Linked DNA regions of Homo sapiens: all the other regions are reported to be linked to region 4. Evidence: microRNA targets listed by miRTarBase, many of them from high-throughput screens and not tested one by one. Region 4 holds a microRNA gene; each other region holds the end of a gene's coding sequence.
Evidence for each region. Region 4 holds the annotated microRNA hsa-miR-603 (CACACACUGCAAUUACUUUUGC, at 5,059-5,080, opposite strand). A microRNA usually pairs through its seed, bases 2 to 8, with sites in the 3' UTR of a target mRNA and lowers its output. Matches are read on the target gene's strand: a 7mer-m8 pairs with bases 2 to 8, a 7mer-A1 pairs with bases 2 to 7 and ends in A, and an 8mer does both.

Region 1 (8,279 bases), not on the chromosome of region 4:
GTATGTTCTGTACAACATTTGAGACAGACTTATACTAAACAAACTACTCATGGTTTGATCTTAGATTCATATTTAATTGGACATCCTGTATTTCATCTGGCAACCTGATATCTGACCCCAAACTGCACAAAGCAGGTGAGCCTGGACCTGGGGAGCTAGAATGCAGGTGTAATTCCCCGGTGTACACCTCGCTCAGGCATAGTCTGCAACTGTGCTTTTGCAGGATCTCTTTTAAAAGCAAGAACAACAACAACAACAAAGAATAAAACATGCGATATTTGCAGCAAAAGACGTAACAGGAGCTGGTCTCATGTAAATATTACGTTAATTAAAACAGATGGGTCTGGAGCATAAACAAAATAGCTGCAGGGGGCTGGTTTTTGTTCTTGCTGGGTTTCTTAATATAGTAACTCAGTTTCCATCCTGTTAGCACTCTTTCCTTATCAAACATTGAACTGGGGTATAAGGAAGTTTAAATTACCAGTGATTGGAGATCCGTTTTCTAAACACTTGAAACAGATGGCTTATTGCCTGAAAAGCATGTTGAGTTTGGTTATTTCAGGAAAATGTTTTATTGCAGCTCATTTATTAACATCAGGTTTGCCATGTGATGAACAATTTCCCTTCAGCTCTGTTCCTTGCATTGAGTTTGGCTACTGAGCAAAGAAAGGTTTCATTTTTAATGCTGTCTGCCTGCTTCTTGGACATTGCATTGAGCAAAAGCCTAGTTACTCCTGTATAGCTTCTCACAGTTTCAGAAAAAGAGCAATAACCATGCAGAAGATTTTTACAAATGAATGTCATTTGAGAGCATACAATGGATGAAGTTGGACTCTCTACCAGCTGTGGCAGCAGTGGACTTAACAAAAAGATAATGTGCTTTTGGCCAGTTTTTGAGGGGTCTAGGATCCAATTCAGGACCACATACTGCACTTAGTTGTCATGCTTCTTTAGTCTTTTTAAATCTATAACGGTTTCTCAATCTTTCTTTGCCTTTCATTGACTTTTTAAGAGTGCAGAATCTTCTTAAAATAGGTTCATCTGATGTTTCCTCATAATTAGTAAGGTTATGGTACGCATTTTAGGTGAGATACTAATAAGGAGTTAGAACTAAATTTTCTAAAACCATTCCCATGCTGTGCAAGGAAGTGGGCTCAGTGTTCTGTGTGTGAAAACTTTCTAGCAAATCTTGAGTTGACAATGGTACTTCACACCTCCCATCAATCTTAATTTGAACTGAGTGGCCTAAATTTTTTATAAGATTCACAGAATCACATTTAAGAGTAAAAACGTATTGCGTTGTCTATGCATTTCTGGGCTTTCTTCTTGGAATGAGATGAGCTACTTTAGATCTGTGTGAATGGTCTGAGGAAGGTTAAGAGAGGGCAGGAGCTGTTTCTTGTAAACTGACAGTTCAGGAGAGTGAGTTGGAGATAATCACATAATCCATTTAAACCACCCAAGTTAACAAGCTCTCACCTTCTCCAAATAGGCCCCTTATTTACAAATAGTCACTTCTATACAAAAGTGGGTTCTCATTCATGTGACTGGAGTCACATGCAGAGATCTCATGGCATGATTTCCCCATACCACAAAGTTCAGTTCACATCAGGAATACTATTAGAACCTGTAACATATTATAAATGTATAATGTGAGCTTTGAAAATAATTTTTTATCTTACTTTGTAAACAAACTACCCCCCAAATAACTTGCAGCTGTGTGTCTGCCTAGTGCAATTCCAGGCTGTATCAGTAGGAAAGAAATCACAGAACAAGGCGGCTGGTCCAGCATAGCTGTGATCAGGTCAAACCAATTGCAGAGATGGGTTCCAGACCCCACATTGTGACAGACTTTTATAAACGGACTTATTTAAAGAAGAGAATGAATAGGTTGCTAAAGAATTCAAAATCAAATTACACGAGTGGCTTTTCAGGTCTGTTTAGTCCAGTCCTGGGCTCAGCCCCATCTTGGGCTCTCAGCTCCCTTTCCTCCATGGGAGAGCCCTGTCTTACCTTATCAGTGCTCATCCAGGGATGAAGGCTGTGCTTCCCTCCGACACACTTGCCAGATTCAGCCTGCCAGCTGAGACACTGGAGGCGTCCCCTCAAAAAAAGTGATGCAGGATGATTTTCTGATGGAAGAGATTTTATTCTACCTGGGGCTGTCCCTATGCCCTTCAAATTCCACATTCTGCCATAAGAATGAATTTCCTTCGTGAAAAAGCAGCAAGGTCTGTCTGTTGGCCAGGACTGTTACCTCTAAACTGCCTCCTTTGGTATTCAAAGAAGAAATATTTCCCAGCTACTGACAAAAGGGAGCCAATTGTATTTTCTGTGAATGCCTGTGGCATTAATGGGAATTACACAAAGTCATATAAAGTGGGAGAACCATGGAGCTACAAAATCCCACTCCCTACTGAGGTCAGTTACAAGCCAAAAACAACTTATGGTTTCTTCAGACCATTCTTTATTAATATAGCAATTAGTTTTATTCCATCGGGATATGTTATCAAGTAGAAACATGAAAAAGTGGGGAGTGTGCAAAATTAAATACCTTACCTCAAGGAAAAATAAGCTGCAAATAATTATCACCAAAATAATTTTTTTATTTTACTTAAAAAGACTCTGAAGGTACACATTTGGTTCATGAACACAGGGTAAAATATTTATTTCCATCTTCATTTTAGTCTAGTGATAACTATACAAATGTGGACATGGATAATGAACAGGTTTTACCCCAGAACATGACCGTGCATCAGCTGATTCGGTGTGTCTGTGGTGTTCGCTGATTTCCAATGTCCATGAATGCTCAGTAGGCGGGCGCTGGCACATTGGCCGCCCCACCACTATCAAGCCAGGTGCTCACAAAACCAGTGCCCATGTGTGATAAAAACATGCTGATCACAACAAACAGTTATTCCATGATGGGTTTTTAACTTATGACAAATATTTCACATGCAGAAACACCCCTGTGTACTTCTCTTCCATAGTCACATCTACCTTCCATTTAATGTAGGAAATCAACTGTTCCTGTTTGGGGGCAAGAAAATGCACAGAGTCATACCAGCATTTCCTCTTGCACCATATGTGAGCTTGCAGAACTGCAAAGGGTTGAGAATGACCCACAGTGACTCTGAAAAGATCTACAACCTTAAAAAGGGCAACATCCCTTCTGTGTTCTAGGCAAGTTAAAAAGGTTTTGCCAGAACACTGCTAGGCTTCATAATCTGTTGATGAATCAAGTAAGAAGAATACATAAAATTCTCTTATATGAAAATATCTTTTACTTGAAGAATATAAATCATAACAAATACTGAAACATTTAGTAACAGTTCTTAAAAAAAAAAGGTTTTTGTCATTAATTCCCCGGACCAAAATTTACACATCAGGAAAGAATTCGGCACTTTGGGGCTGACTCTTTTGGAAATCACTAAGCTAACATTTTTGACATTTACAAAGTAATTGGTCCAATTACAAATGAATTTGACCAATCACATCTCTGAATTTCTGGGTCAGTGACGGCAACAGGTGAATTCAGAGGGGAAGTACCAGATTTGGGGGATGAAAAGATTCATTTAAATAGCATCTCCGTTTACTGAGTAGCAATCACATTCTCTCACAGCCTGACAATATTTGCTTCTCATGATAAACTGACAACATCACTTTATGAAACTGCATGACAATGTATTGGTTAAATATTTCCTGGAACATCTACACTTCAGTTAAAACTGTACTATTTACAAATCAGAAAATATACTACAAAGCATGCTTGTAGGCACAGCATGCCTGCAAGACACAAATATACAAAATTATGGCAAGCTATGGCAAGATTCCTTAAACCAATAGAATATTCTGATGCAAAAAGAGAGAGATGGAAATACAGGCCATATATTATATGTGAGCCATACTCTGAAGCCCAGAAGACTCTCTATCCAAAAGGGAATCACAGACATAAAAATAAAATATTTGGTATTCTACAATATTTTACAAAAATAAATATATCAATCAATAAATAGTGGGAAGCCTAGAAACTCTTACATGAATATTTTGGCTGTGGGCTGCCCAAGTCCCTCTGCTATAATTCTCCTCAAGAGTTGTTTAGCTATATCAACTTCGGTGATGATAATTCTGCAATAAAAGGGGGAAAAAAACTGGCATGGGACCCAGAAGAAGGTCTATGACCAGAGAAACATTAGTAAGATTCTACCTTTTTAAGGATCTGACAATATTCTGGCTTCCTGTCAATGCAGGAGTTGAAAGTGACACCGGTGTGCTGCCGGGGTTCCGGTGGGAGCTGGGAGAACTCCTCTACGGGCTGTGTCTTTTCACTTTCTGACAAAAAGCCAAAAAAATACAACTAGCAACATTTGAATAACAATATGTTGCTCTCTGCACTCCCTTTCCACAGGGAAGCAGAAAATCATAGAAATGCAGGTTTACATCTGGATGGGCAGAAAGAAACAACTGGGCTATGCAGCCTGATCGCCAACAGCCTATATTTTCATATCTCTTTAACAGAAGAGTGACTATAAGTGCTCGAGACAAGATTTCTCCAGAAGCCCGGAGCCAGCAGCGCACACAGTGGAAAGCAGGGCTGGCACATCCTTAACATTCTAGTATCAGGGTGCTAATGTCAGCGGTGTGCTAATGTCAGTGGGATACTAAATGTCAGCGGTGTGCCAGCACCAGTGCACAGCTCCCAAGAGCTGACTTAGGTTTTAGAAGTTTTGCAAGCCAGTTGACATCACCTTGGCAGCTCAAGATAGACCATGTAGGAGCGTTTGCAGCATTGAAATCCACAAATCAGGGCTTTTTCTCCCCCTGGATTGCTGGTTGTAAGGGTTTTACCAGCACACCACTGTCATATGTATTAGACATAAAGAAAATTTGCTTAATTTTTATCTAACCAGGACTATCCTGGTCAGCTGAGGTTTTACTGTGTATGTATTACAGTGTCCTTTAGAAAGGATAAGAAGTACCTTGGAGTATGTGAGTATACATTGTGTACCATGGAGTATGAAGGATGCACCACGTTCCACTGAGGGTATTAAGCGTGGTTATTCAAAGCCAGCTATACATCACACACACATACACACATCATGTTATATGGAGGCTGTTCCACAAATAGTGATTCTGAGTTGCATGGCTTTCTCAAAGCATCAATCACTGTATACCCACTGACGGTCAAAACACCACTCTTCCATGAGCAATGAATTCCCCAGGATTCACCCAGCAGACAACAGATCTAGCGAGCTGAGGTTCAAATTGGGCCTTCTTCAAAATAGTTTTCCTTGCCTCTATTGTCTAGTGCAGTTTGAGTTTATAACCTTAAGAGATTTGTAAAAGGGGACTGATTGTTTTCCAGGGTAAAAAAAAGAAAAAAGTGTCAGACTTCTTAAGGAAGCATTCCTTAAGATGAGTAGGGGTGAATGGGGGATGACGTACTGGAAACCACATTCCTGGTTCTAACAGGAACCATCCATGTTCCCTGCCTGGAGATGCTGGAACAGTTTGGAAACTGCTCTGCTCTGCTCTGGTTCCTCCTGCACAAAGCCCAGAATATGCTTGCCAGGTAGAGGGAAATGGTTAGGGGTTAAGACTGGAGGCTGCCACCTGCCAGGAAAACCCACCGGACCCTTCCTGTGCAGAACACTTCCTCACCACTTTCAGTCCTGGCCAGTTGCAAAATGGGAAGATGGTAAGATGAGAAGATGGGAAAGTTACTGGGTTTCTACCATGAAACAATCATGATTTCAAAATTCAGGCTTGGCTTTTGAGTCATTTGCTTGTGTGTCTATTCATAAATTCGTTTATTTAAATCCATTCATTTGGACTCTGGTTTTCTTTTTCTTATACTTACTTATTCTGGTTTTCTTTTCTCTTATATCTAAGTATTCTTCATGAACAAAACATTTGATAAAGGATATTATTAAAATAAAATCAAATTAAATATCACGGGAAGATTTAGAAATTAGAACACTAACTCCTTTCACCCTGAGAGCAAAGGCACTTAGGTGTCCCTTTCCAGTTCACAGCATGCATCATGAAGGCCAGGGAAGAGCAGGGACACAGGGATGGGAGGAAGGTGAGAGGCACTAGGGCCAAGAAGAAAGAGGGAAGGAAGAAGATGGAGCAGAGGAAAGCAGGGGTGCTGAGACAAGGGAACAGTGTTAACAGGTGAAGAAAGATATTAACATCCTTTCTTCCAACAGACAGACCCCTTCTGATTTTCCTCCTCTTAGTCTTTGATACTTCTATTTTGTCCAAAAGATTTAATTCTTTAAACAGAACCACTTTTGGTTTTACAGACACATCTGAGGATAGCCTCTGAGGATAACATCAATATCCTCTTCCCTTTCTCCCTTTCTCCCCTTCAAGTACCCTCCCAACCCCTCTACTCTCTGCAGCAGCAATGGCCAGTACTCATGGCCTTGCTTTCCTATTGTCTCAGGAACAGATTTCATGCTGGTTTCTTCTGTTTTCCTGCCTTGACCAGGAGTTGCCCTCTGGAGCACATTGGTCCTCCATGGGTTCATTTTTTCCTGTTGTACCTCTAAGACCTCTTAAGTCCATTTGGTTTCTGTATCAATTAACCCTTCCCTTCAAGCATCCTTTGCCAGGCCCCTCCTCTCTGAGCAACTACAGAAACTCAACTGACAAAAGCTACACTTACATTTCCAGAGTATTTAGGAAGGGTAATACTTCCTAGGATGATTAAAACCCTGATGTCAATTATCTTGACTTAAATCCTACTCAGAGAAGAGGTAACAGAGAACATACCATTGGCCTTTAATATGCATACATTTGAGTGAGTCATGCATGTAGATGAGTATAACCTGCCTGCATAGAACCAAAAGATTTTTGTAAGTTCATGTATGTACAAATATACATACACAAGTGTGTGTCTTTTGACACTGTATTTTGCCTAGGGGTTGTTTTCAAATCAACAGGGAGGTGGCATTGCCAGGAAATGGCAAGTCCAAAGAGAAAACAGATTGAAAGGGACTTAACTGGAGAGGAAAATATGCATTTCCTACAACAAACTGACCTGTCCATTTCCTGAAGGCAGCAAGCCTCTATTACTGTACACCCTTATTAAATAATCTCATTAAATAGGAACACCAAATATACACATTTACAGTTATTAAATAAGCCATAGGACTCTTCTTCTATCTACAGCCACATTCGGAGACGGCCATGCCTTCGTATTTAAACTTGTAGGTGACGACGCCTTTGTCTAAATAGAGGATGGAGATGGGCTCTAGCTTTGTGGGCACACAGCAGGCTTTGGAAGCTTTCTGGGAATTCTTGAGGTGGACCAAGGCCTGGATAATTGCATGCTTTGTGGGTGTGAGATGCTCTGCCAGGGGGTAGTTACAAACACCACGGCATTCATAGGCTTCGTATCCAGGCGGAGCGATGATCCAGGAGTCCCACCCAATCTCCTTGAAGTCGATGTAGAGCGGGGTCCTCTTACAGTAGTTTCCTTTGGCGTTCCTTCTGATTCGGGCAGTGGAGTCATAGATGATGTTTGATCTCATCTGCAACAAAGCCTCTTCCCCAGGTCCACTGGAAAAGCTATCCAGGCCCAAGTTGTCCAGCTCTGGAAGTTGCTCATGGGAAATCATTTCATTCAGTTCCTCCTTCCTCTCCTTGTCACTGCTTTGGTCATCAGAAAACACGATGAGCAAAGGGTTATGCTTATTCTGGGCACTGGTATCTATTTCTAGCCGTCCACTGCTGGCATCCTCAGCTTCATCGTGTTTGCTCTCAATGTGGACCTCCAGCTGGTGGGTGGATGAGCCTGACTTTTGCCAACGTCTGATGGCATCTGTGACATCAAAAGTCTCCCACTCACTGTTGGTTCCATATATCTCCCCAGACACCAAGACCAGCATGTTTCTTTCTCCCTCATTATCCCCTTTGCTCTCCAGCACTTCAAAAATGGTAATTTTCCGGTCTACTCCATCGTATATCATACGATCCCTTTGCACCAGTGTGTATAGCCTAAGTTCAGCCATGATGACCTCTTCATGGTGAGGAATGGACACATTGAAGAGGAGGGGGTATTTTCGGAGCCCATTAAAACTGACCGGCTGGGAAAACAGATCTGAAAAAAGAAATTTGCAAAAATCAGGTTTGCAGTGGGTCTCAGGGAAAAACAGATGCTTATTTATGTAATAAGAAGGCCTTCCCATGCACAAAGCTTAATGCAGAAAGAATGAAGGGAGAAAATCAATGAGAACAAACACAATGTCAGCATTCTGTGACACAGGAAA
Region 2 (8,279 bases), not on the chromosome of region 4:
GAGCACATATCAAGGAGTTGGGTTGAGAGTATAGACCCCAACTCTACAGCCAGCTTCTGGCGCAATGCTTGGTGTACAGTAAGCTTTTGGCATGTACATTTTGAATAGCTGGTATATTGACATGACTCAGAATTCAGAAGGAACTATGCGTGCTCAGTGAAAAGTGTCCTTCCCACTCCTGGCCTCTAACAACCCAATACTCCTCCCCCTCTAGGGACCTCTTTTTGCATACACAAGCAAATAAGGTAATTTGCTTTGTTAATGAATAAAGAAACTAACAGTAAAAACCTGGAATCATTCCAAATGTTCAAAATCTGGGGCTGGCTAAGTAAGCGATTATATAGCAACATTATAGACTAATCTGCAGTCATTAAACATTATTAAAATTATTATAAGGCAGACTGTAGTATTACATGCTAAGTTTTAAAAGCAGAATATAAAGCAGACCTCCACATTGAATGCACTTGATTAAAAAAAAACAAAAAAAAAAAACCCCAAAAAAACTGGTCTCTTCAGTGATAGATGGAACTGATCCATCAGCCTGAGACAGAAATGATTGCTGCTTTAAGGTGAAGGCATTCAAAGTTTTCTTTTATGTAAAGTTGTTTGAATATGAAAAGAAAGGGGCTGGATTCTTGTGAATCTGCCTGATGAAGTGTGATTCATGATGGGACTCATTCATTCAGTAATTCATTCAGCAGACATTTGAATGCTTGCTTTGTCAGGAGGAAAAGCCAGAAACAATGGTGAGCTTCTGAGGATGAGCACTAAGTAGGTGATGGGGACATTAAGAAGCTCTGATGGAGAGAGAGGGGTGGGGAATGTGATGAGTTCATTGTAAGACTGGGGAGTTTGAGTTCAGTTTATTCATCAAGGGTAGCTGTATAGCAGATGGCAGGATACAGGTCTGGGAGCTCAGTGAAACAGCCAGGGCTAGTGATAGCCGCCAGTATATTTGTGGACAGGGAAGCCGGAGGTGGAATGGAGAAGTTAGACAAGGAAAGGGGAAGACAGATGAAATAAAGCTGTTTATTTCTGCAAATCTCTTAACACCTCTGAGCCAGGGCCAAGGGCACCAGGGTAGCAGAGGCTGTATCTGTTCCTGAGTGTTGAAGCGCCTCAGAGTTCAGGCAGAAACCCTTCCTCCCAGCCCCTGTCTCCCAAACCCCATGCATGCATGGCCTGGGTCTGGTCTTAGTTGTCCTGAAAGGCCTGGTAGATGAAGAGATGCTGTGACTGGCTTAGAAAACATGTAGGAACCCCTGAATGAGCATCTGGGAGAAAATATTTAAAAGGTTTACCTGAAGCCTAGGCAACATAGCAAGACCCCATCTCTACAAAGTAAAACATAGAAAAAATAGCTGGGTGTGGACATGTATCTATTATCCTAGCTACCAGTAGGCTGAAGCAGGAGGATCGCTTGAGCCCAGGAGTTCAAGGCTGCAGTGTGCAAAGATTGTGCCTGTGAATAGCCACTGCACTCCAGCCTGCGCAACATAGTAAGGCTGTCTCTATTTTTAAAAATGAGTTGATGGCATTCAGGTTAAAGAGAGCAGAGTTCGCGGTTACAGTGAGCTGTGATTGCACCATTGCACTCCAGCCTAAGAAAGAGAGCAAGATTCTGTCTCTAAAAAAAATAAAAATAAAAATAAAAGATTTACTTGAACAAAGACCAGCTAAGTAAGGCTGGACAGGGAAAGGGAAAGTAGGTGGGCTTGGCATTGGGGGCAGAAATGTTCCACTGCGGGTTGAGTGATGCGAGGGCCCCAGGAGGGGTAGATTTCTGAGTGGGGTTTGCCCCTAGTGAGCAGGTCTCAGACTGTCCCTGAAGGGGCCAGCAGGAATTTTTGCTCAAAACTTGGACAGAGAAAGGGAAGGGGTTATCCCCAGAGCAGTGTACCACCAGGATGTATTTCCTACCTTCATATGTCCTCAGGCCAACCTGGAATCCAGGCCCAGCTCAACCACTTAGAGCTTAGTGATCTTTGGGAAATCTCTTCTCTAAACCTCAATTTCCTCATCGACAGACTGAGACTATAATAGTATCTCCCTTGGGTGTTGTGAGGATTAGAAATACTGTATGTAAAGCTCCTAGTATATAGTAGGTGCTTAATACACAGTAGCCATAATTTTTATTCCTGCTACCACACTGGACTAGGCCAGCCTAAGACATTGCTCACTTCTACTCTCTTTGAGGGATTTGTTGCCAGTTGGAACAAGACACTGAAATCTAAGACTTTGCCCATCATCTTTTCACATACATTTGTCAAAGGTGGCCTGGCAGGCAGATATGTAAAAACTGGTTCCCAGTTTTCACTGTGCATAGTTCTTTTTTTTTGCTGGTCATTTCAGCACATGAAGAAAAGCATGTCACAAACCTCTTGGCTGGTGGTGAGATCTAGAAGACTGATTGAGAAAGCATCGGAGGAGCAAGGGTTTAAGTCGTGAACTGCTGAATTTAAAAAAAAAAAAAAGGCCGGGCACGGTGGCTCATGCCTGTAATCCCAGCACTTTGGGAGGCCAAGCAGGAGGATCACTTGAGCCCAAGAGTTCGAGACCAGCCTGGGCAACATGGTGAAACCCCATCTCTACAAAAAATACAAAAATCAGCAGGGTATGGTGGTTCACACCTGTAATCTCAGCTACTTGAGAGACTGAGGCAGGAGGATCGCTTGAACCCAGGAGTTTGACACCAGCCTGGGCAACACAGGGAGACCCCTTCTCTATTACCAAAATTAAAAAAAAAAAGCATCCCCTCCTCCGTCCCTCCAGCTTACCAACAGCCTGCTGCTCTTACTCGTCACTCTTGTGTCGTGTCTTATAACTGTTCAAAGTGCTTTTGCCTATATGATTTCATTTGCTCCCCACCCTGGCCTGTGAGGTAAGTAGGGCAGATATTGGCTGCCATCTCAGAGGGGCTAAGACAGTGACAGAGCTGGGACTAGAACCCACGCCTCCTTGTGATGGACAGAAACGAACCGTGCCCTGTTGACTTGCACCTTTGATGAGTGGGTTAAAAGGAATCTGTGAGGAAATGATGCACAGGTTTTGGGGACAGCTGTTTTGCAAGGAGACAGTGACAACAATACCCTATTGCTGTAGCGTGCCCAACAGAGACAGGTGGCTATGCTCCTGTTGTGCTAATGAGCAAACTGCAGGCGCAGGGTCAGCGGAGGAGGACTTTCTGGGGTTTGGGTGACACAGAGAGGCGGTTTTACAGAAGACTTTGCCTGGGGCCACCCAGCTTGGGAGTGGCAGAGCCCCCAGAATTGAGACTTTGACTCAGGACTCTAACTCCAACTTCTTGGGTTTGAAGTCAGCTCATTTCTCCCCTTGCCCTTTCTCACAGGGGTGTTGAGAGGAACAAGAGTGGAAAGGACAAATCAGTGTGTAACGGCATTAAAGGAAATAGTGCCTAGCATTCTCCTCTTCCAAATCTAATTGGCCTCCACGTGAGGGCCGCAGAGAGCAAATACTTTGGCTAAGCTGATCTGTTTGCGTGCTCTACTTCTTAGCTGTGTGAAGATATCAGATCTTGCTTGACAGGTTGTGAGAATGAAATAAGCAGCATATGTGAAAGTGTTTTGCAAACTATGAAGCAGTACTATCATTGAGAACTTTAAGAGTCTTTGCTTCCGGGAATCCAGCAAACCCAGCTCACTCTAGGACCCTGAAAGAACTCGCCTCTGGTGGGAGTAGAGAAGGTGGTGCTTTTTTGGTTTCTCCGGCCTTCAGGCAGACAGAACTGGGGAGGAAAATGGAGGAAGATGAGCTTGCTCACCACCTCCGTCTTCTTATCCCCCAGCTGAGGGGGCAGTGGCGGGGGAGCTGGCATAACCTTTGCTTTGGTGAGTCAGCTAAGAAGGAATTTCTAGAGCTCCACTGATGTAGACATGGTTGTTTTAGTTTGGATTTCTAAAGCTGCTCCTCTTTGAAGCAGCTTTAAGACACAGCTAAAAGCACAAGCAATTGGGAAGCACATGGAAAATGACAGCAGCATAACATCTTACTAGTGTGAACTTGAAGAAATCAAGTTTCGCAGGGTCATTGTATTAATAGTGTGGGAAAGTGCCTGGCACATACCAGGGGCCCAATATCTGTCCATTTCCTTTCCCTTCTCAGTGGACAGACTGCAGTCACTAAGCTAACAGAAAGCACTTACTCTTCAGTTGCCTGAGTTTACAGATAATAGGTGCCATTATTCATTTAATCCTCACAGCCCCAGGAGACAGCTTATCTACATACACCGAAGAAAAGGCAGCTCAGAGTCTTATTGCCCAAGGTCACGTCACACAGCCTGCAATTTTTGATTTTCTTATTTTTTAGTTTTGGGGGTGCATAGGTGTATATATTTATGGGGTACCTGAGATGTTTTGATATAGGCATGCAATGCATAACAATCACATCATGAAAAATGGGGTATCTATCCCCTTAAACATTTCTCCTTTGTTACAAATTATACACTTTTATTTTTAAATGTACGATTAAATTATTATTGACTATAGTCGCCCTGTTGTGCTGTCAAATAGTGGGTCTTATTCATTATATTTTTTTGTATCCATTAACCATCCCCATCCCCACCCCAGTACCCTTCCCAGTCTCTGGTAAATCTTCTACTCTATCTATCTCCATGAGTCCAATTGTTTTGTTAGTTCCCACAAATAAGCGAGAACATGCGAAGTTTGTCTTTCTGTCAGCCTGCAATTTTTAAAGCCAGAATTCAAACCCACCTTGTCTGGTTTGCCTGTTAGATATCAGGATGTGTGAAGCTGTTTAACTGAGCTGGGCCTCCTGGAAGGCCCAATCTTCAACGGACTTGGACCAAGAGGTAACTCCAACCTGGCCCATTTGGGAATAAACTCAGGGTGGAGTTTCAAAAACAGGAAATAGGCCATTGCTAGAGGCAGGCTGGCAGCCACTGGAAGAGAGCGGAAAATGTTGCTTTCCAAATCCTTGGGGGATTTAATCTGTGCTCTCCCAGTTTCAGGAGCTTATGTTGTGAGGGTGAGATGACTCCTCATTAAGCAGTATACAAATAGATTATTGGTAGTCTTCTGTCATCTCCCACGAAACACAACCTCCCCCTCATCACCTGACAGCCCTCCACTAACCACCCTATAAACAAGAGGGAACTGAGTCTCCTTTTCAAACACCTCTCCTAAGCTAGACTGCAGAAGCTGGGAGGGCTGAGTCATCTTCCTCTTGAAAGAAAACCCGTGTAACAAAGCCACAGAAGTATGCTTTCTGTGCATATCATTTGTTTCAACACATGGCTGCTTTTATAGGATGCCAACGCAAGAGCTGAGGACACTGTCTTCTCTGTTCCCCAGAAAGTAGGTACCCTGCAGTGTCATCTGTACTGTCCCCCTCCTCCACACCCATTATCTGCGTGACTGCAGGCACCTCACTAAGCAGCCAAACGACCACCACAGCACATTTACCCAGGCCATTAGTTTGGATTGTGCCAAGTATCTCACAGCATAGGCAAGAAGGGCCAATTGAAGAGTTAGGATGGCTGGGTGCGGTGACTCACGCCTGTAATCCCAGCACTTTCGAGGCCGAGGTGGGTGGCTCACGAGGTCAGGAGTTCGAGACCAGCCTGACCAACATGGTAAAACCCCGTCTCTACTAAAAATACAAAAATTAGCTGGGTGTGGTGACGGGCGCCTGTAATCCCAGCTACTTGTGAGGCTGAGGCAGGATAATTGCTTGAACCAGGGAGGTGGAAGTTGTAGTAAGCTGAGATCACGCCATTGCATTCCAGCAACAGAATGACACTCGTCTCAAAAAAAAAAAAAAAAAAAAAAAAAAGGCTATGGCCTGAGGCTACTCTTCACCCTAAGGGATATATGGTAAACGCATGAGAGTAAAGGCTCTGGCCTCAGATACATACACAAGGATGACTTTTAAGAGTGCCTCCTCTATCTCTCATTTCTTCTGGCCAAGCTAGGACGAGGTAGATAGGACTGGGAAGTAGACTACATCCCTTTGCGGTCCATTCACCTTACAGCTATAGTTTCTGAGAATAGTGCTGTGTACCAGGGAAAGCTCTGGTTTTTATGATCTCCCCTTGTAGAGTGCTGGATTGCTTCATGGTGCAGGGTGCTACTTATATGGCTTCATATCATATGCCCAGTAGGAAGGAGAATGCCTGGGCAGATCTGATGCTGGACCAATTCACTGCCCACATCAAAGGGCATCTCCCCATAAGCCCAGAGACCCACAGCTAAATGTCCCCACTCCCCCGGCAAAAAAAAAGCAGCTGATAGCCATATTTCTGTACAGGCTCATATAATAGAGGGGACTTTTATTATTTTTTCAGAGAATTCGGATAGCCATAGATTATACAGAGCCATTTCTCAGCACTCTTTTCCTTCCACTTAAGAAGCTGGAATACAACATGATGAGGATGATGCCAAAACAAGACTGCTGGTTCATATCATCTAGGGTACAAATACACACTTAATCACTTGACACTTTACTGAATGCAAAGCAAGATTTAGCATCTTTGCCCTCGTTGTACAGAGCTGAAGCAGGAGACCAGGGAGGGGAGGACTGCATGGTTTTCCTTGGCAGGGGAGTTGTGCACCCTGCAGTCCTGTGGTGTTGTGGGAAGATCAGCCCATGTTCTGTCGGTTCCCATAGCCCCTAGGATGGGTGTCCTTCCAGTCATCCCACTCCCGGGCTCTGTGGAGTGTTTGTTCATCATCCTCTTCCTCCTTTTCTTCTTGTTCTTCCTGTTGCTGAGCTGCTTTTCTGAATTCCTCTAAAGTGGAAAAATTAGAAAGGGAGGTGAGAAATTGAGGGAATGTTAATAAGTAACGTCAGGGGCCTCAGTTCCACTCTGAGCACAACCACATGCAATGAGAACAGGAATACAGCCAGCTGCCTACCCTGAGCCCGGCGGAAGCGGGGAGAGAACTTGCATTACCTAATATATCGCATGTTAAAAAATAGTACGAAAGGATGCTCTAAGTGGTTTCCACAAGAAGGCAAAAATCATAAAAGGTGCCCCTCAGAATGAATTCTATTTTGGAAGAGAATTCTTGCAAAAATGGCCAACACCCACCCCCCCCAAGCCCCTAAACAAAAACATTACCACCACCATCAAACAACCCCTGCAATCCAAAAACAGGAAAGAAAAAATATTTATGAATTTGTGATTTGTGAGTTGCCAGGGGGGTGGGATTGCAGTTGACGTTTCCTCCTCCATCCATTTCCTTTACTATAGTCATACATAAGTTTTTGTGCATAAAATTGAAAATCACAGGGCAGTTGGACCTACCAGAAAAGAATGCCTACGTATTATTTTGCAGTGCTTGAAATAGGCTCTGAGGTCCAAATGGCATTTATCATGCAGTGTACACCCAAAAGAAATTAAACCAACTGCTGCATCTCTTTTGCATTTTTTTTCCTTTGTGAGGTAAAGCAGCATTTTCCTGGCTACTCTGACTTTGCTCATGAGAAATAGTCTCATTACTATGAATGAAATGTGTGGGGATCTGATCTCTTCTAACAGCTCAGGAGTCTTTTTTTCTGAGATAGGGTTTCTCTCTGTTGCCTAGGCTGGAGTACAGTGGTGTGATCATGGCTAACTGTAGCCTCGAACTCCTGGGCTCAAGTCATCCTCCTGCCTCAGCCTCCCGAGTAGCTGGAACCACAGGCATGAACCACCACACTTGGCTAATTTTTACATTTTTTGTGGAGACAAGGTCTTCCCCTATGTTGCCCAGGCTGGTCTCGGCCCTCCCAAAGTGCTGGGGTTACAGGCGTGAGCCACCTTGCCTCGTTCTTTTCTTTTAAACCCTTTACTATAAAATAAAACATGGTGGAAACCACACAAGTACATATAAAACAAATTTTTGTAAGGAGGCCTTATAGCCTCCACTCAGGTCAAGAAACAGATCTCCTGTATCCACCCTAAAAGCCTCTCTGTGTACATTATACAAATCAACTCTCCTCCCCTGCAAAAGTAACCTCTATACTGCTTTTTATAGTAATAACTTCCTAGAGTTCATCACAGCTTTATCACCCAAGTGCATACCACTAGACACTGTAATTGTCCATTTGTACATTCATTTTTTTACTCAATGTATTTTTTAGTACAGAGTTGTGCAACTATCACCACAATCCAATTTAAAAAATTCTATAACCCCAAAAGATCCCTTGTGCCCATTTACAGTTAATTCCCATTCCTTCCCTCCCTGCCCCCAGCTCCTAGAACCATGAATCAACTTTCTGTCTCCATAGATGTGCCTATTCTGGACATTTCATACACA
Region 3 (8,124 bases), not on the chromosome of region 4:
CTTCAGATGTGGCAAATAACAAAAGTGTTGAGAAATTTAAAGGACACACAACTCCAGTCAGGCTGTGAAGTAATCCAGGTTTCTGGATATGAGACATGGTGTAACTGAAAGAGCATGGTCTGTGTGTCTGCAGTGCCTGCATTCAGCATCATTTATTTGAGCATCCACTGAGTGTCATGTGCAGAGAGGATACAATGTTGAGCAAGACAGTTGTTCACAGAGCTTGCAGAGGAGGCAGTTAAGGAGCATACAAGCAATTACAATGTAAGGATAAGATTACCAATAAAGGAAGCACAGAGGACTATGGAAGCACATGAGGTGACTCCTAATCCAGTGCAGGGTCCTTAGGGAAATGTTCCTGAAGGAAATGTTCCAGACGGAGGCCCAGAACTGTGTGATTAGAATATAGAGTAGTGAGTGATGAAGCTGGAGACAGGGCAGAAGCCAAATCATGAAGGGTTTTATAAGCCATATTAAAAGAGTTTGGGCAAACCCAAGAATATTGGATTTTTGTGCCAGCAAAGCAGTTGAAGAGCTTTAAGCAGGAAAGTGGAAAGAAGTGGTGGTGATACATCTATGGTACTTTAGAAAGACACTTTGGCTGCAGTCTTGTAGGTTAGATTGGAAAATGAAAAGACTAGAAGTATGACATTCAGATAAGTAGTTTAAGTAATCTATTAGCTGGGCAGGGTGGCGTGCACCTGTAGCCCCAGCTACTCGGGAGGCTGAGACAGGAGAATTGCTTGAGCCCAGGAGGCGGAGGTTGCAATGAGCTATGATCCTACCACTGTACTCCAGCCTGGGTAACAGAGTACGACCCTGTCTCTTAAAAAAAAAAAAAAAAAAAAGTAATGGAGATAGAAAAGTGGATGGATTTGAGATGGAATACCATAATTTAAGGGGTAGGCAAAGGATACTAAGATGTGGCCAGAGAGATAGGAGAAAAAACATGAAATGTTATCATGGAAGCCAAAATAAGAATATGCCAAGAAAAGAGTGGCTAACAGTGTTAACTACTGCTTCCAGGTCAAGGAAGAGCAAGACTGAAAATGTTTACCAGATTTATAATCGAGGAGGTCCTGGATGACCTTGGCAAAAGCAACCCCAATGGCATGGGAATGAATGGTAAGGCAGAAGTATTGGGATGCAAGTAGGCAAAAATTGTTATCGAAGTACAGAGGTGAGTTATCTAACCTAGTCTTAGAGAAAAGGGAAGGCTTCCTGGAGGAGGCATTACCTAAGTGGAGTACTCAAGGACAAATAGGAGTTAGTCATGTGGAGGCAGAGAAGGAAAATTTAGGCAGAGAATGCTACATGTACAATTGCTCTTTGGGGGCACTAAAAATAACCTTGTGACTTTGGGCAGTTACTTTGCCCATTTTCTCATCTATAAAATGGGAGTGGATAGTATTGATAGTATTTATCTCACCGAATTGTTGACAAAGATTGGGATAATTTATATAGAATACTGGTACACATTAGGGACTCAGTAATAGTTCACTCCCCCTCATTAAAGTATTACAATGAAACAAAACTTAAAAGATTTTTTTTAAATGAATTTAATCTCTCTCTAGAAACAGTGCACTGATTTTACAAATGTCCACATTTGGTTTTCAGTTTACCAAGATGATGCCAGTATAGCTAGTGAGATGCAGCACCCCATCCTCAGCCCCCTCGCCTCTGGAAGAGACACCAGACTGCAAAGGGCACCGCGTACAGAAGCTAACGGAACTTGAATGACAAGACAAAAAGAGCAGAATCAGTTAGTGTGACACAACATTCTAACATGCCTGATTCTTACATCAAATATGGTAACTTTGGGGTTGGTAGGGGGAGACAAACAAGGAGAATCCACTTGGGAACAATTTGATGAAGTTTGCAAATCAGCACTTTACCCCCAAATTAACAACAGCTTGTATGGAAAAAAAAATGCTCTTTTAAAAGTATATGGTTTGGACAGGTATATTTGTTTTCTCTTGTAGTTTTTGTAAAAAAGTATCAAAACCTTGGCTTTAAATATATATATATATATATATATACACACACACACACGTGGCTTTTTAAAAATTACTTTTTTATAGCACAAAGTGTTTGTAAATGCAGAGGGTTTCTGCTAATTCTTGACTGTGCACATGGTGCATAGCCTGAATGAACAGAGCTTCCTGATTTTTTTTTAACTGAAAAATTGAAGCAGTAATTCTTTAACCTTCTAAATTCTCCATACCCTAAAAATACAGTGTGAGAAGTCTGTTACTCTATCTTCATGCATTTCGGGAAAAGGAATTATTTACTCTGAAACATTTAATGCTAACTCATTTATATTTTGTGAAACGATGAGTGTATGGCTGGAGTTCGGGGGGTAGGGTGGAGAGGCTTGCATTCCTGTGCCATTTCCCCATTCCCACCAGTGCCCAACTGGACAGTGATTAGTATCCCCTCTCCAGACTCAACGTCTTCAACATTTTCGTTTTTCTTTCTCACAGTTGAGAAAATCTAAGAGGCTCTCGACAACATGGCATGCATCTGTGAAAATCCCACTGCCCTTATATTAGTCTTCATTGACCATATAAAAAATCTTTGACTCAAATATATGAAAAGCAGTCAGCATTTCCCTTTGGCCACTGGAAAGCTTGAGGCTGAATAATATCAGTTCTGCAAAGTGCTGGCAATGCATCCTAATGAATTTTCCATGATGCATGTAGTGCCTTGTACACAATGATCAAGAAATGCTTCATTGAATCAGAAATTAATCTATTTTATAAAGTGCTTACATTGAATCTCTTTCCATACAGCCTCATTTCTTGCCCCCCTTGAGCCTTTTGTTCCTGTTAGAATGAACTGTGCAATTCCTAAAGTCCCTGTGCTCTTTCATACCTCTGTGTTTTAGCTCGATGTGTCTCTGTCTGAAGCAGCTTGGAATCCCCTTCTTAATTTTTAAGACTTAAGGTCACTTCTATGATGACCCTATTCCTCATTTCTTAGGTGGAAAGACCCCTCTCTCCTTTGAGCCCTAACAGTGCTCTGAATAGAATCAATGCCTTTTTTGTTTCCACATATATCATCCTCCACTGCTACTGTGAACTCTGTAAAGTCAGAACATGTGTGACTGACCTTTACATCTGCAGTGCCAGGTGTGTAGTTGGTATCTAGTGAGTGGTTTTAGTGAATGAATATACTGCAGTCATACTGAGATAACTGGAGGGATCAATAGGACTTACTGCCATACATTTAAATCCGATCTCATTCTCTTTTTGCCAGTTAACAGGTTACTTCAATCTGTTTTATAAATAATCTGTGTATCAAGAGTAAATAAGTACAGTTTCGTTTTCTCTGTTTCTAGAAGGCATTTCAGTTAGTGCCTTTGTAATTCCACTGGAGGAAAGGTAGACCATAGTATAGGTAGCAGGTTTGATACAATGTTCAGGCAGCCCAAAATAGTCTTCCTGCAGAAGGAAATGGAGGAAACGCACTGGGACTGGCTTCTGATAAATTTTCTGCCCCCTTGGCATTGTCTCTGAGCTTCCTTCCAGCTCTATAGTCCAGTGACTCTGTGATCTGTGATTGGCTGTAGATAGCTATGCACGGGGGCAAAAGGCAAAAGATATGTAACTGTACCTCAAAATGAGGCTGAAAAGCCTCTATGAATGGGGGAAGGTGGATCTGACTCCTCAGGTTTCATCTTATTTACTGCCGTCCAACACATGAATATATCACAATTTGTTTCTTGTAAAGGGTTGCTCCCATTGCTGCCTCTTTCAAACTGCAGTTGTAGCATATGCAGGAAACATGAATGTCTCTGAGAAAAAGTTGTGAATTTCATTGTCATTTTGAGATCTCAGGCTGTATGTCCAGACCCCATTCATCATTTTTTTCTGTGAATGCCAGGATCTTACTGAAAGTTTAGAAACTATGCCTTAGCCACTGTTATCATTTAATTCCTTGGAAAATTCAGTTTCTTTGGAAGGTTACAGAAAAAGTCACTTGTTTTGAGTACATTTCCATGTTTTTCACTGTCATCATTTTTCTTCAGTCAAAAATAATTTTACTTTCCGTTCTTAAAAGAATAGTAATATGTGAGTAAGCTCCATAGGAGTTGGCCACCTGTTCTTAAAATTCTGTTTGGTATTGGTCATTCTAGGTCAACTGCATTTACCCTCTCAATGAATGTTTCAGGACTATCAACACATGCATGTCATGAGGAGATTGCTGGATTATGCAAAACACACTGCCCAAGCTCCAGAATATAGTTATTTTCTTAGAGTTTAGGAGGCCAAGAGTGACACAGAGGAAGGTCCTAGGTACAGGATGCTAGAACTCCAGAATGTCTGACTGAAAATTCAAAGGGTATCAAGCTGGTGAGACATCCAACTTCATTGAGTTGGGGGCATCTGGCAGGTAGGGATGGGAAGGCATTTGCTTAAGTGTGTCAAGTTCCAGGTATGATGAGATTAGATGCAGCTCCTCTGCTCCTACTTAAGTCAAACACTTCCATGTTGCACCTTGTCCCTGGTTGTCTAGTGGGAGTAAGTGGCAGAACAGCAGAGTTAAGAAACTCAAACTCTTTCTCTTTGGATGGGAAAGCCACTGGGGACTGAATCCTTCTGGGACTATAGGATTATGTTTCCAATGGGAGACCCCACAAGTAGAAAAGAGCACTTCTCCCTTCCTCCCCCAAGGCCAAGAAAAGCAAAGAAGATGTCTATAATGAAGAACATCTATACATATACCCGGAGTTTTTCCTTTTATTTACAAAGCAGTAAACCAAATTCCTGTGTGAACATAAATATCCAATATAATATAATATTGCGTATGCCATTTCCCCCCTCAAATATGACTTCAATTTTGGCCAGTTGTTCTGACTTAAGCCAAAAATTAGTTTCATCTATATGAACATATGATGGTAAGTAACCTATTTATTACCTTAAAATGTTTCCCCACATAAAGGAAATGGTAGAGAGTAAGGGGAAAAGAGAAATAAGAGATGTGATAAAACCTATTCCACCATCTTTATCTTCATCCACAGCATGTCCTAGACATTCAGTGCCTGGGCCAGTCTCTATAGTAAACTTGGGCTGATCTGGAAACGTCTCCACTTAGCTCTGTAAGGATGGCACCCTTCAGGGTGCTTCAGAGGAAACTTACTGAATTCAACCCAAGTGTCCTGAAAGAAATTGAAGAAGTTACTCAAAGAGCTGAACTTTAAAACAAGGAGTAGCTGAGGGTGAGGCATATCCTATCTTGAGTTTCTGAGCACTCTGGTACCATGGAATGTCTGTACACTGACCTTCGCCAAAGCCAAGAAAGCCCTGGTAGGAGTCACAGCAGCCATGGGTGAGCTGAAAGGCTTTTCCTGACTTCCTGGGGTCTCAGGAATAGCCAGAGGTGAAAAGATTTGCCTTTTTTACTACATAATTGCACAAACCATGGTATCTATTTTCTGATCCAGATTTCCAAAGGCTTTTCTGAAAACTACAAGATATACCCCTTGTGGACTGTGTGAAAATAAATTTATCTTTATGTATTTGAACAGTAGCCATAGATGTGCCTCTTCTCTACAGATTTTTCTGTCACACACATACACATATAAACACACACATACACACACAGAGTCTGTGTGGTGGGCCAAACATGCCAAAAATAAATACTCTCACTTCTCTAAATTATTTATAGAACTCATCTGATTTTTAAAATATGTTAATAAATAATCTAAATGGGGGAGGGAGTTGAAGTGTTTTTTTTTTTTTTTTACTTATGTTGATGGATAGCCACAAAGCATAATCATCTTATTTACAAAAAACAAATGCCCCAAAACCTAAAAAAGCCCCCCCAGCAACCAAACATCTTCTGTAAATATAGTTTTTAAATGATGAGTAAGGTACTGTGCCATTGGCCCCCATTTGGTTATGTGCATCATGTTAGTCAGCAGTAGCCATTCCACGAATTCCTCATGGGTAGTGCAACCAGTTAAAAAGTGTATAAAACATTATACATAGAAAAACTCTCACATCCTTTGGATGTTTGCAGTTCATCATAACTTTGTGGTTACCTTTCCGCAACATAAATTTAAAAAAAAAATCACACACACACATACACTCACACAGACCCATATATAGAAACCCATTCATCCAGTCATACACCATCCAGAGTGTAGTGCATGGGACTGAATTCCATGAGGCACGAAGGGGGTGATCCCATCCTCAGGGTAGTCCATCATCTTCAAGGCTTAATGCCACTCGCTGGGGAGACAAACCAAAGAATTCATCATTAGATCCATAAGAGTTACTATTTATTTAGTATTGACAAATCACAGACTTACGTTACTTTAACAGGTATTAGCTCACATAATGTTCAAACTATCCTAAGAGACAGGATTTATCCTATTTATTTTACAGATGAGAAACAAAACTCAATGAGCTTAAGTAGGGTTTGTTCTGGATCACATAGCAAGTGGCTGAACTAAAATTTGATCCCAGGTCTGTATGAATCCAAAGCTGTAGATTTTTTCATCATTCTGTTTTGTATCTTTGTAAAGAAGAGTTGCACAGATCTAAATTTTCTTAATCCTCCCTTATAGGATTTTAGGTTTGGTCAATTTCAGTGGGTTAGCTTTGGCAAATGTTAAATTTCAGGCTATGGGGTTACTTGTCTCTAGCATGCTAATCACATTTAGAAAGGTAATATACTGCACCTTCCCAACAGATTAAACACAGTTGGGAGGCAATGCAGGTTAATTAAATTCCATCCCTCTCTCCCTCACCCCTGCTTTCCAGTCATTAGGTAGATGCTAGACTCCTGTCTGCCAAAAATGGCTGACCATGGGAAGGTGAGCCCACTAACCCCTGAACCAGTCTATTCCATTGTGGACAACAGATTTAAATTCTTTCCTATATTAATGTGAAATTTGTTTGTTTATATCTTCTGACATTCCCTGATTCCATCTCAGACTCAGAGACAGTTCTACATAGGACAACCCTTGAAATTTATAGATGGTGTTTGAATTCCCTTCCGTTCATTCTGAGTGTTTTCTTCTCCAGGGTACACATCTAACTTTCCCCAGCTAGTCCTGATGTAATCTTGTTTGCCTCTTTTCCATTTCCCAGATACCCTCCTTTGGAAAGACCCTCCCCAGCTTCAGTACTTTTCCTCATAGTTATGTGAATTTGGGCCAGCCACTTTACTTCTCTGAGACTTAGTTTTATCATCTATCAAATGGGAATAGTAACAGGACCTACCTCACAGGGTTGTTGAGGAATCAAATGAGATAATGCACAGAGAGTGTTTAACATAGTACCTAACAACACATAGGGCCCAGAATATCCTAGGTCAACGTAACCAACATAAAATAGAATCAGACTAGTATCTCCCATCTCTGGACATTCTACATATGATAAAAAGTAACTCTACTGCCTTTCAAGTCATCTTTGGGTTATCTGTAGTTTTTTTATGAATGCAATGGCCATCCTCCACCAGTGTAGATATTTAAGACTATCTTATTCTAGTCTAGCTACCCTCCCACTCTCTCTAAGACAGATCTCTAGGCCAAAGATAGGCCCCAGTAGTGATGGTACAGTTATCCGAGAAATGGACAGAGGAGAGACAGGTTGTTGAGAATATTGATTTCCAGAGCTTCAAGGCTATTTACCTCACGATATAAAGGAAAGAGCATGGGCTTTTGTGTATATACAGACTGGAGTTTGAATTCTGGTTCTGCCACTTCCTGGCTATGACCTTAGGCAAGTTATTCAATTTCTATGAGTCTCAGTTTCCTCATCTGCAAAATGGGGCGAATAATATCAGCTTGATAAGGTTATTATGAAGATTAAATGAGAAAATATATGTAAAACACTGGGAACAGTGTCTGACACACAGTAGGTGCTCACTAAATGTTGATTTCCTTATTTCTCTGCAACTGGCAGAAGCTTATTACTTGGTCCTTAACACTCATCGGGAGTAACTCCCCCTGAGTCATTTCTTTCTCTGGAAATAATGTCACTTTACATGTGCAGAGTGCTTTGTAAGTCACAAAGTGCTCTCACACGTGCTATCTCACTTGTACTTTATAAACTCAGGAGGCAGGTAGAATGGGGGTTGTTATTCTCATTTTACAAATAACAGTGAGCAGAA
Region 4 (8,279 bases):
TTTTTTTTTTTTTTTGAGACGGAGTCTCGCTCTGTTGCCCAGGCTGGAGTGCAGTGGCGCAATCTCTGCTCACTGCAAGCTCCGCCTCCCAGGTTCACTGCATTCTCCTGCTTCAGCCTCCTGAGTAGCTGGGACTACAGGCGCCTGTGACCATGCTTGGCTAATTTTTTGTTTTTTAGTAGAGATGGGGTTTCACCATGTTAGCCAGGATGGTCTCGATCTCCTGACCTCGCAATCCACCCGCCTCCGCCTCCCAAAGTGCTGGGATTACAGGCATGAGTCACCACGCCCGGCCAGGTTTATTCCTTTATGGAAACATTTTATTTACCTGTGCGGAAAAGGTCATTTTCAATCTAGAATCTAGGTATATTCAAATTAGTGCTGAAATTCAGCATCTTTTCATTTTACTTTATAGCACCCTTTCACTTTCCTTCACTTACATTATTCACCTGTGTGTACTCCAGATTATTTCAGAAATCTTAGAAAAGCAAAAATGTTTGTTAGAGTTTTGCAAACAGGCTTCTAGCCTTTTGTCCTTAAAATACGGACCCCTATTCCTTGCCAAATCTGGTGAGTCAAGGTCTTCATCCAATTTAGAATTCATTAGCATGAATGACATGAAACTGCAGATATTTGACTGTTTTTGACATACGTAATCACCAATATCCTATGGTTCCACCTAAAAGACATGAGCATTTCTTTTCTAGAGAGGCATCAATGATTAAGGATAAAGGAAGAACATCAACCTCTACCAAACCGATCCTCATGGGCCTAAGCACGCCATCCCATTAAAAAAGATAAAGGGCCTATATGTTCATTTTATTTCAGAGAGTTATTTCTTCAACAGAGGAGCCTTCACTGAGTTCCATGCACCATGAATTTTCAAATCGGTTTTTAAGAAAATCAAACACTAAACTTAGAGAACCCCCTTAGAATGTTAGTTGCAACTATCAGATGAACTTGTACCCTCTTAACGACTATTTTTTCTGTCCACTAGCAATATTATTTTTTTACCATAATAACATATTTAGGATGTATTTTTCTCCTGTCACTGTAAAGAGAAGTAAAAAGTTTTAACTCCAGTTAATTGGTAAATCTGTGCTTCTATTTTGAATGTATTACCTTTTAGTTTTATAAGTTTCCATATAAATCCCAGATTCATAATGAGAAGCTCTAATTTCATTACACTTTTTGATTGAAATAAAATATTTAATAGCTATTTATGTTTCATATGCAGAATTCATAACCCTTTGGTTTATAATAACTTTCTCATAGACTCTTCTGCAAAAATCCTTCAGTCCCTTTCACAAACACTTCATTTTCTAGGGAAAATTTTCCACATACTCATTAATTAGTAATATCTCCCAGTTACATGATAATATCTTCACTTGAGCAATATTGTAGATTTTATAATGATGTATTAAAGATAGTTATGACTGAGTCAGATGCCATCAATGCCAACAGACTTTGAAGTCAAGGATGCTACTGGACTTGGGTTATGCAAAGGACACAATAGCCTCTGCAGATCTTTTTTTAAAAAAAAAAACAAACAAACAAAAACACCACCACCACCAACAAAAAAAAAAACAGACACTAGAAATGCAAAGAAGAAAACAAAACAATGGGGAATCCCTGCACTGTTTCATCCTCAATCATCCCCATTAATTTGAGTAAACAGTAATCTGAGCTGGGTGTGGTGGCTTATGCCTGCAATCCCAGTACTTTGGGAGGCCAAGATGTGCGGATCACCTGAGGTTGGGAGTTCAAGACCAGCCTGGCAAACCCTGTCTCTACTATAAATACAAAAATTAGTGGTGGCCCGTGACTGTAATCCCAGCTACTCAGGAGGCTGAGGCATGAGAATCGCTTGAGCCTGGGAGGCAGAGGTTGCAGTGAGCTGAGATTGGGCCGCTGCACTCCAGCCTGAGCAACAGAGTGAGACTCTGTCTCCAAGAAAAAAAAAAAAAAAAGTAATCTGAGTACACCAACAGCAGATTCAAATTACTCAGTCTTCACAGTTAGCAACTTTAACTCAGTTCTTATTTAAAAACAAGGAAGTGAGTGGCCAAAGGAAGTAAATTTCTCTCTAGCATAACACTGTAGAGCACGCTAGTGGTAACACCCACTTTATTTGCAGTCCCCACTAGACAGCACACATTAGGTTACTCATCTCTTTCATTCCTTCTGTCTCCCCAGTGGCTAACATCATGCCCAGAACAGCAGAGTTGGTATCCAAATATTCACTGAATAGACAAATAAGACTCAATACAAGGGACTTGCCACTTGCCTAGTGCCCACATTGTGTCTGCCACTTGCCACATGCTTTCGATAGATTATCCCTTATCCACACAACTCTGCAAGCTCTGTATTATTTTTGGACACTTCACAGATGAAGGTCAGTGGGATTAAACAGCTTTCTCTAAGCCACACAGCTCATGAGTAAATTCAAAACCGGGTCTGTGTAATTTCAAAATTCCTGCTTATCTCACTCCAAACACTGCCTCTCCCTGGTCTGCACACAATGGTCTGAGTTCTAGGTTTCCGGCCTCACAGAGTAACTCTCATCCATCTTCTACCTGACAGTCTTTCAGAAATGAAGACTTTCCAGAAGCCAGTGGTCAGTCTGACCCTTTACACCGCCACTGTGGCTGTAATGTGCTTCTCCACAGTGTTTTGGCCTGCTCCAAAGTGGCTCATGCAGACCCTGCCTCTCCTCGCTACTTTCACACACAGCCTAAGAGGTGGCGTCATCACACTCCACAGCATCTCACCCATGACGGCGTCCTCGAGCTGCACAGACTGTGCGTCCGTCCTCAAAGGACAAAAGGCATAGGTCCATAGAGCTGCTGTCCAAAAGCATCACAAAGGGAAGCCAGCAAGCACTGCTTTCTATCACAGGGGAGAAGTTCCCAGCTGATTGCTGGCAGTGCTGCCACTGTCTTTTGCCCGTCAGAGGGTGAGTCAGAGAGAGGACTCAGGAAAACCTACTGTATTAGGCCATTCTCATGCTGCGATTAGGACAAACCTGAGATTGGGTAATTTATAAAGGAAAGAGGTTTAATTGACTCACAGTTCTGCAGGGCTGGGGAGGCCTCAGGAAACTTACAATCATGGTTGAAGGGGAAGCAAACACGTCCTTCTTCACATGGCAGCAGCAAGGAGAAGAATGAGTGCCCAGTGAAAGGGAAAGCCCCTTATAAAACCATCAGCTTTCATGAGAACTCACTCACTATTATGAAAATAGCATGGGGAAAACCGCCCCCATGATTCAATTACCTCCCACCAGGTTCCTCCCACAACATGTGGGGATTATGGGAACTACAATTCAAGATGAGAAGTGGGTGGGTACACAGCCAAACTATATCATCTGCATAGCAGGTGGCCTTGTCTCCCCATTCCTGGGCTCCCCCAGGGCAACCTGTCCCCCATCCCACTCACGAGGCTTCCCTCTAGGAAGCCGCTAAGAAGAGACCTGCCACCCACCTGCTTGCTCCACTTTGAGTGGGAACCACACCAGGGTCAACCTCAGAAACATCTGAAAAGTTGGAAGTAAATTCAGCAGTCTAGCAAAAGCAGTCTTCTGCAACTGAGGAATCCAGGTTGAGCGCTGCCATGACCTGTATTTGAAAAGCTGCCACCTTCCAATCAGGCCAGAGTTAAAGAGCAATTTGAAAAGAGCAAGAATTTCCAAGCTATAAAACTAGGGACATGATTCTAAGAGGATAAAACATTTTAAGATTGGTTTAAAAGCTTTTGAAAAATTTAAGGCCAGGCATGGCAGCTCACATCTATAATCATAGAGCTTTGGGAGGCCGAGGTGGGAGGATTGCTTGAGGTCAGGAATTTGACACCAGCTTGGGCAACACGGGGAGACCCCATCTCTACGATTTTTATTTTTTTTTTAATTAGCTGGACTTGGCTGGGTGTGGTGGCTCATGCCTGTAATCCCAGCACTTTGAGAGGCTGAGGCGGACGGATCACAAGGTCAGGAGTTCCAGACCAGCCTGGCCAATATGGTGAAACCCTGTCTCTACTAAAAATACAAAAATTAGCTGGGCGTAGTAGCACATGCTTGTAGTCCCAGCTACTCAGGAGGCTGAGGCAGGACAATCACTTGAACTTGAGAGACAGAGGTTGCTGTGAGCCGAGATCGCGCCACTGCACTACGGCCTCGGTGACAAAGTGAGATTCCATCTCAGAAAAAAAAAAAAAAAAAGCTGGACTTGATGGCATGTGCCAGTAGTTCCAGCTACTAGGGAGGCTGAGGTGGGAGCATCACTTGAGTCCAGGACTTCAAGGTTACAGGGGCTATGATTGTGCCACTGCACTCCAGCCTGGGTGACAAAGCGAGACCCTGTCTCTTAAAAATTTTTTGTTTTTAAATTCAAACCCAGTTTTCCTCAGGACTCTTATTAACAGCTATCTAAGGAATAGGAAGGGATGCCCTCAAACCGGGCAGAACGAGATGGAATTCTAAGTCATTTTGTCTTTTGCATTTCTGAAAAGACTTTCATTTTTCAAAGGACATCAAAACTGAAATGCCTTATAAATCCCTTTGTGTTTCTGCGTTCTGTTCAATGGCATCAATAAGATGGATGATCAGCAAATGGCATCAAACTCCATTTGTATTCTTATTAGAATAATAACACGTAAAATGATATGAAATGAAACAGCAGATTCCAATGACCTTGTAGCCCAATTCAATTACTATTTCACTAAATAACGACAAAACTGACAGTCCTCAAGCTGCTGAATTTATGAATTAAATTCAACTTCTCTTCTACATTCTGAGCAGGACTGAGTGGAAAAAGAAATGGTCAGTGAGGACTGGGGAGGAGTTTCCTTCTCTTTGCTATTTAATGCAACATCGCCAAGCCCACTGGAGGGAGGGGTATGGAAAGACAGTTTAAAAAGGAATATCAGGACCAGAAGGGAGAACTGATGGCCAGGGCCCTTGCTATAGTTTGCTCCTGCAGATGAGACACTGCTTTGGAAAATTTTATCATTAACCAAACTGCACTGATGCTAAAAGTCAATAAAGCCAAGTATTAAGTTGGAGCAAAAGTAATTGCAGTGTGTGCCATTACTTTTAAATGGGAAGCACTGCAATTACTTTTGCACCAAACCAACAGCATCAATCTTGCCTGCATCTTAAGCAAAGGCTTAATGAGAAAAAAAACATACTTGAGACTACTAAAGCATTATACAGTCAGTCCTCATTACTAGCAGATTCTGTATTTGTAAATATGCCCATCACCTAAAATCTGTTTGTGACCCTCAAATTAATACTCCCAAATGTTTGCAGTCATCATAGACATGGCAGGACAGTGGACAACTGGAGTTTCCCAACAAGCACGTTCCCAGGTGGCGTCTAACTAAACAACACTCTGCTTTTTTGTTTCAGTTTTCATACTGTAAGGAAGCACCCTTTCCACAGTCTTTTTAGTGCCACAAGTTTCGCATTTTTGTGTCTTTTTGTGTCTGTGTGTGCACCTGCATGCGTGTATGTGTGTGTGAGTGACTTCACTATTTAAAATGGTCCAAGCCAGGTGCAGTGGCTCATGCCTGAAATCCCAGCACTTTGGGAGGCTAAGGCAAGAGAATTGCTTTGTGACAGGAGTTCAAGACCAGCCTGGAATATACTAGTCATGTTCATTGGGGAATTAAGACCTCAAAAACATAGCCAGACCCTGCCTCTACAAAAAAATAAAATTAAAAAATTAGCTGGGCATGGTGGCGTGTGCCTGTAGTCCCAGATATTTGGGAGGCTGAGGTGGGAAGATCACTTGAGCCCAGGAGTTTGAGGCTCCAGTGAGTTGTGATTGTGTCACTGCACTCCAGCCTGGTCAAGAGGGCGAGACCCGGCATCTACAAATTTTTTCTTTAAATAAGAAAAGAGAATAAATTTTAAAAATAAGAAATAAAATGAAATGGCCCTTAAGTATGGTGTGGAAGTACTATTTGGCATTCCTAGGCTCAAGAAGGCTGTGATACACCTTACACAAAAAATAAGTGCATTAGATAAGCTTAGTTCAATGCTAATGAATCAATAATATATATTTTAAAAGGTGTCTTCAAACAAAAACACAGGTAAAATAAGGATTTTTGTTGATTGGTTGATAAAAAGGTAACCAAAGACTCACAGGAACCTAACCCTGTATTTCCCCTAGGAAATTCAGTATTAACTAATAAATTCAGGACTCACTAATGCAGTATTTAGGGCAAGTTTATAGAACATCAATACTGTGAATAACAAGAATTGACTGTATTTTCAAACTGCAGTAAAAATGCCATAAGTATGTAAAATAGGACTTGTAGGAAGACAACAAAGTATATTTAGATGTAGCAGGTTCATCTTTTTTACTTTTTTTGCAGATGTGAGAACTTGACAATTTCTAACCACTGGACTTAGAATGGAGAACACAGCCAATCTGGGTGACAGAGCAATATTCCGTCTCAAAAAAAAAAAAAAATTAGCTGGACTTGGTGGCATGCACCAGTAGTTCTAGTTACTTGGGAGGCTGAGGTGGCTGGTCATGAACTCCTGACCTCAAGTCTCCCAAAATGCTGGGATTATAGGTGTGAGCCATTGTGCCTGGCCAGCAATGGCAATATTTTCTTACTACCAACTCTCAGAAAACATACATTATTCTCCATAATTATCCAATAAATTTGGACCCATCTGAAAATAAGCATCAGTCACTTTTCAGTTTATACATGTATGCTATTAGTCATTACTCTGGTAATATGTGAAATGTAAATCATTGCCTTATTACTTACTGGATATGGGCTGTTTTTTGGTTGAGGTATGCGTCTAATTTATTGGTACTACATTAGAAAATGCCCTACACCAAATATCTGCTCTGATTGGACTAAGATCCTACATTTTTATATTTGGGAATATTGCTCAACTTGAGAAAGGCAAGATGTCCCAATCCCTGCAACAGTAACTTGGACTTTTTTTTTTTTTTTGAGACAGAGTCTTGTTCTGTCGCCCAGGCTAGAACACAGTGGCACGATCTCGGCTCACTGCAACCTCCATCTCGTGTGCTCAGGCGATTCTCCAGCCTCAAGCCTCCCGAGTAGCTGTGATTACAGGCATGTGCCACCACACCCGGCTGATATTTGCATTTTTAGTAGAGACAGGGTTTCACTATGTTGGCCAGGCTGGTCTCGAACTCCTGACCTCAGGTGATCCACCCACCTTGGCCTCCCAAAGTGCTTGGATTACAGGCATGAGCCATGGCGTCCAGCCAATAACTTGGACTTCTAATTAAAGATGTGACGTGGGCCAGTTATGCATAGAGGTAAGCCAAGGGCCTCTTATGTGACACCCTCACTGGACTGGGACAGATTCTGCCATGTCATTTACCTTGAGTACTCCAAAAGGAAGAACATAAAAATAATAATGTAATGAAAGTAGCAAGGGTATGTTTAACTTCAAAGAAGATCATTAATACTTAGCCTGGACTGTCTGAGAATATGACTAGAGAAAAGGGAATGAAGGAAAGAGGAGTACTTAATCTATGCTTATTGTTCAAATGCTCTTCTCTGCTCACACTTTGCAAATGTTAATAAGAGTCTGATCTCTTGATAGTAACCATAGGGAAATTTATCAGCCTCTAAACATAATTTCTCCCTTTTCTCTATCCTGAGTCTCCAATGAGTTGGGCAAAATGCAGAGGCATCTCATTCATTCAGAAAATGCCATCTTTTCTCTCTCTCATATATGTAGTGTTGCTAAAATTAACTAAAAAATTAACTAGTTTTAATTTTCTTCTTCTTAAAGGCTTCTGTCCATAACTGTCCAAGGCGCAGAAGGGCACAGACTTTTACGCAATGAGAGTCCCCTGACATTCTGCTGTCTAAGACTTCATTCTCAGAGTGCAAGGACCAGAGAAAGAACTGGGGTGGATGCTATTCCACGTTTGCTCTTTTCATTAAGACTTTTCAAAGAAGACTTTATTCCAACATGCATTTAAAAGAAAAAGAAATGAAGAATTCTTCCTTCAGGCGAATAACTCATAAGGGGAAAAAAACCCTTGAATATGATTTATTTCACAGGGATCATTGAAGAGCACGTGAAAACCGATCTCTGTTGAAATTCCGAAATACTTGTTAATGCCACCTTGAAAGAAGTAAAGAATTTCGAAGTCAGTTATTAAATAAATCCATGACTATTTGAACAGCTATCTCAATTTGGCTGGAATGTGGCTAGAATTCGAGTTATGTACATTGAGTTTGAGTAGAATGTGGCTTTGACAATGAGTCAACCTTAG

Region 1: miRTarBase lists BMP10 as a target of hsa-miR-603. Seed matches in the 3' UTR shown: 7mer-A1 at 5,090-5,096.
Region 2: the mRNA of IGBP1 is a reported target of hsa-miR-603. Seed matches in the 3' UTR shown: 8mer at 6,456-6,463.
Region 3: miRTarBase lists LRP8 as a target of hsa-miR-603. Seed matches in the 3' UTR shown: 7mer-A1 at 5,597-5,603, 7mer-m8 at 4,221-4,227 and 7mer-A1 at 2,038-2,044.

The regions. Positions count from the first base shown.
Region 1 is chr2:68,858,462-68,866,740 of GRCh38, forward strand. It overlaps BMP10 (bone morphogenetic protein 10), which reads right to left. Exons shown (of 2, transcript NM_014482.3): 2 at 2,448-8,110. The coding sequence ends at 7,170. Among named protein-coding and RNA genes, the nearest start is that of BMP10, 8.8 kb to the right of the region's middle.
Region 2 is chrX:70,164,320-70,172,598 of GRCh38, reverse strand. IGBP1 (immunoglobulin binding protein 1) reads right to left here. Exons shown (of 7, transcript NM_001551.3): 7 at 6,275-6,766. The coding sequence ends at 6,618. Among named protein-coding and RNA genes, the nearest start is that of DGAT2L6, 9.0 kb to the left of the region's middle.
Region 3 is chr1:53,240,821-53,248,944 of GRCh38, forward strand. It overlaps LRP8 (LDL receptor related protein 8), which reads right to left. Exons shown (of 19, transcript NM_004631.5): 19 at 1,544-6,236. The coding sequence ends at 6,198. It overlaps MAGOH-DT (MAGOH divergent transcript), which reads left to right. Exons shown (of 3, transcript NR_038953.1): 2 at 1,027-1,125; 3 at 1,618-1,963. Among named protein-coding and RNA genes, the nearest start is that of MAGOH-DT, 6.3 kb to the left of the region's middle.
Region 4 is chr10:24,272,546-24,280,824 of GRCh38, reverse strand. It overlaps MIR603 (microRNA 603), which reads right to left and starts at 5,140; the gene lies at 5,044-5,140. All of the region lies in intron 2 of KIAA1217, which reads right to left.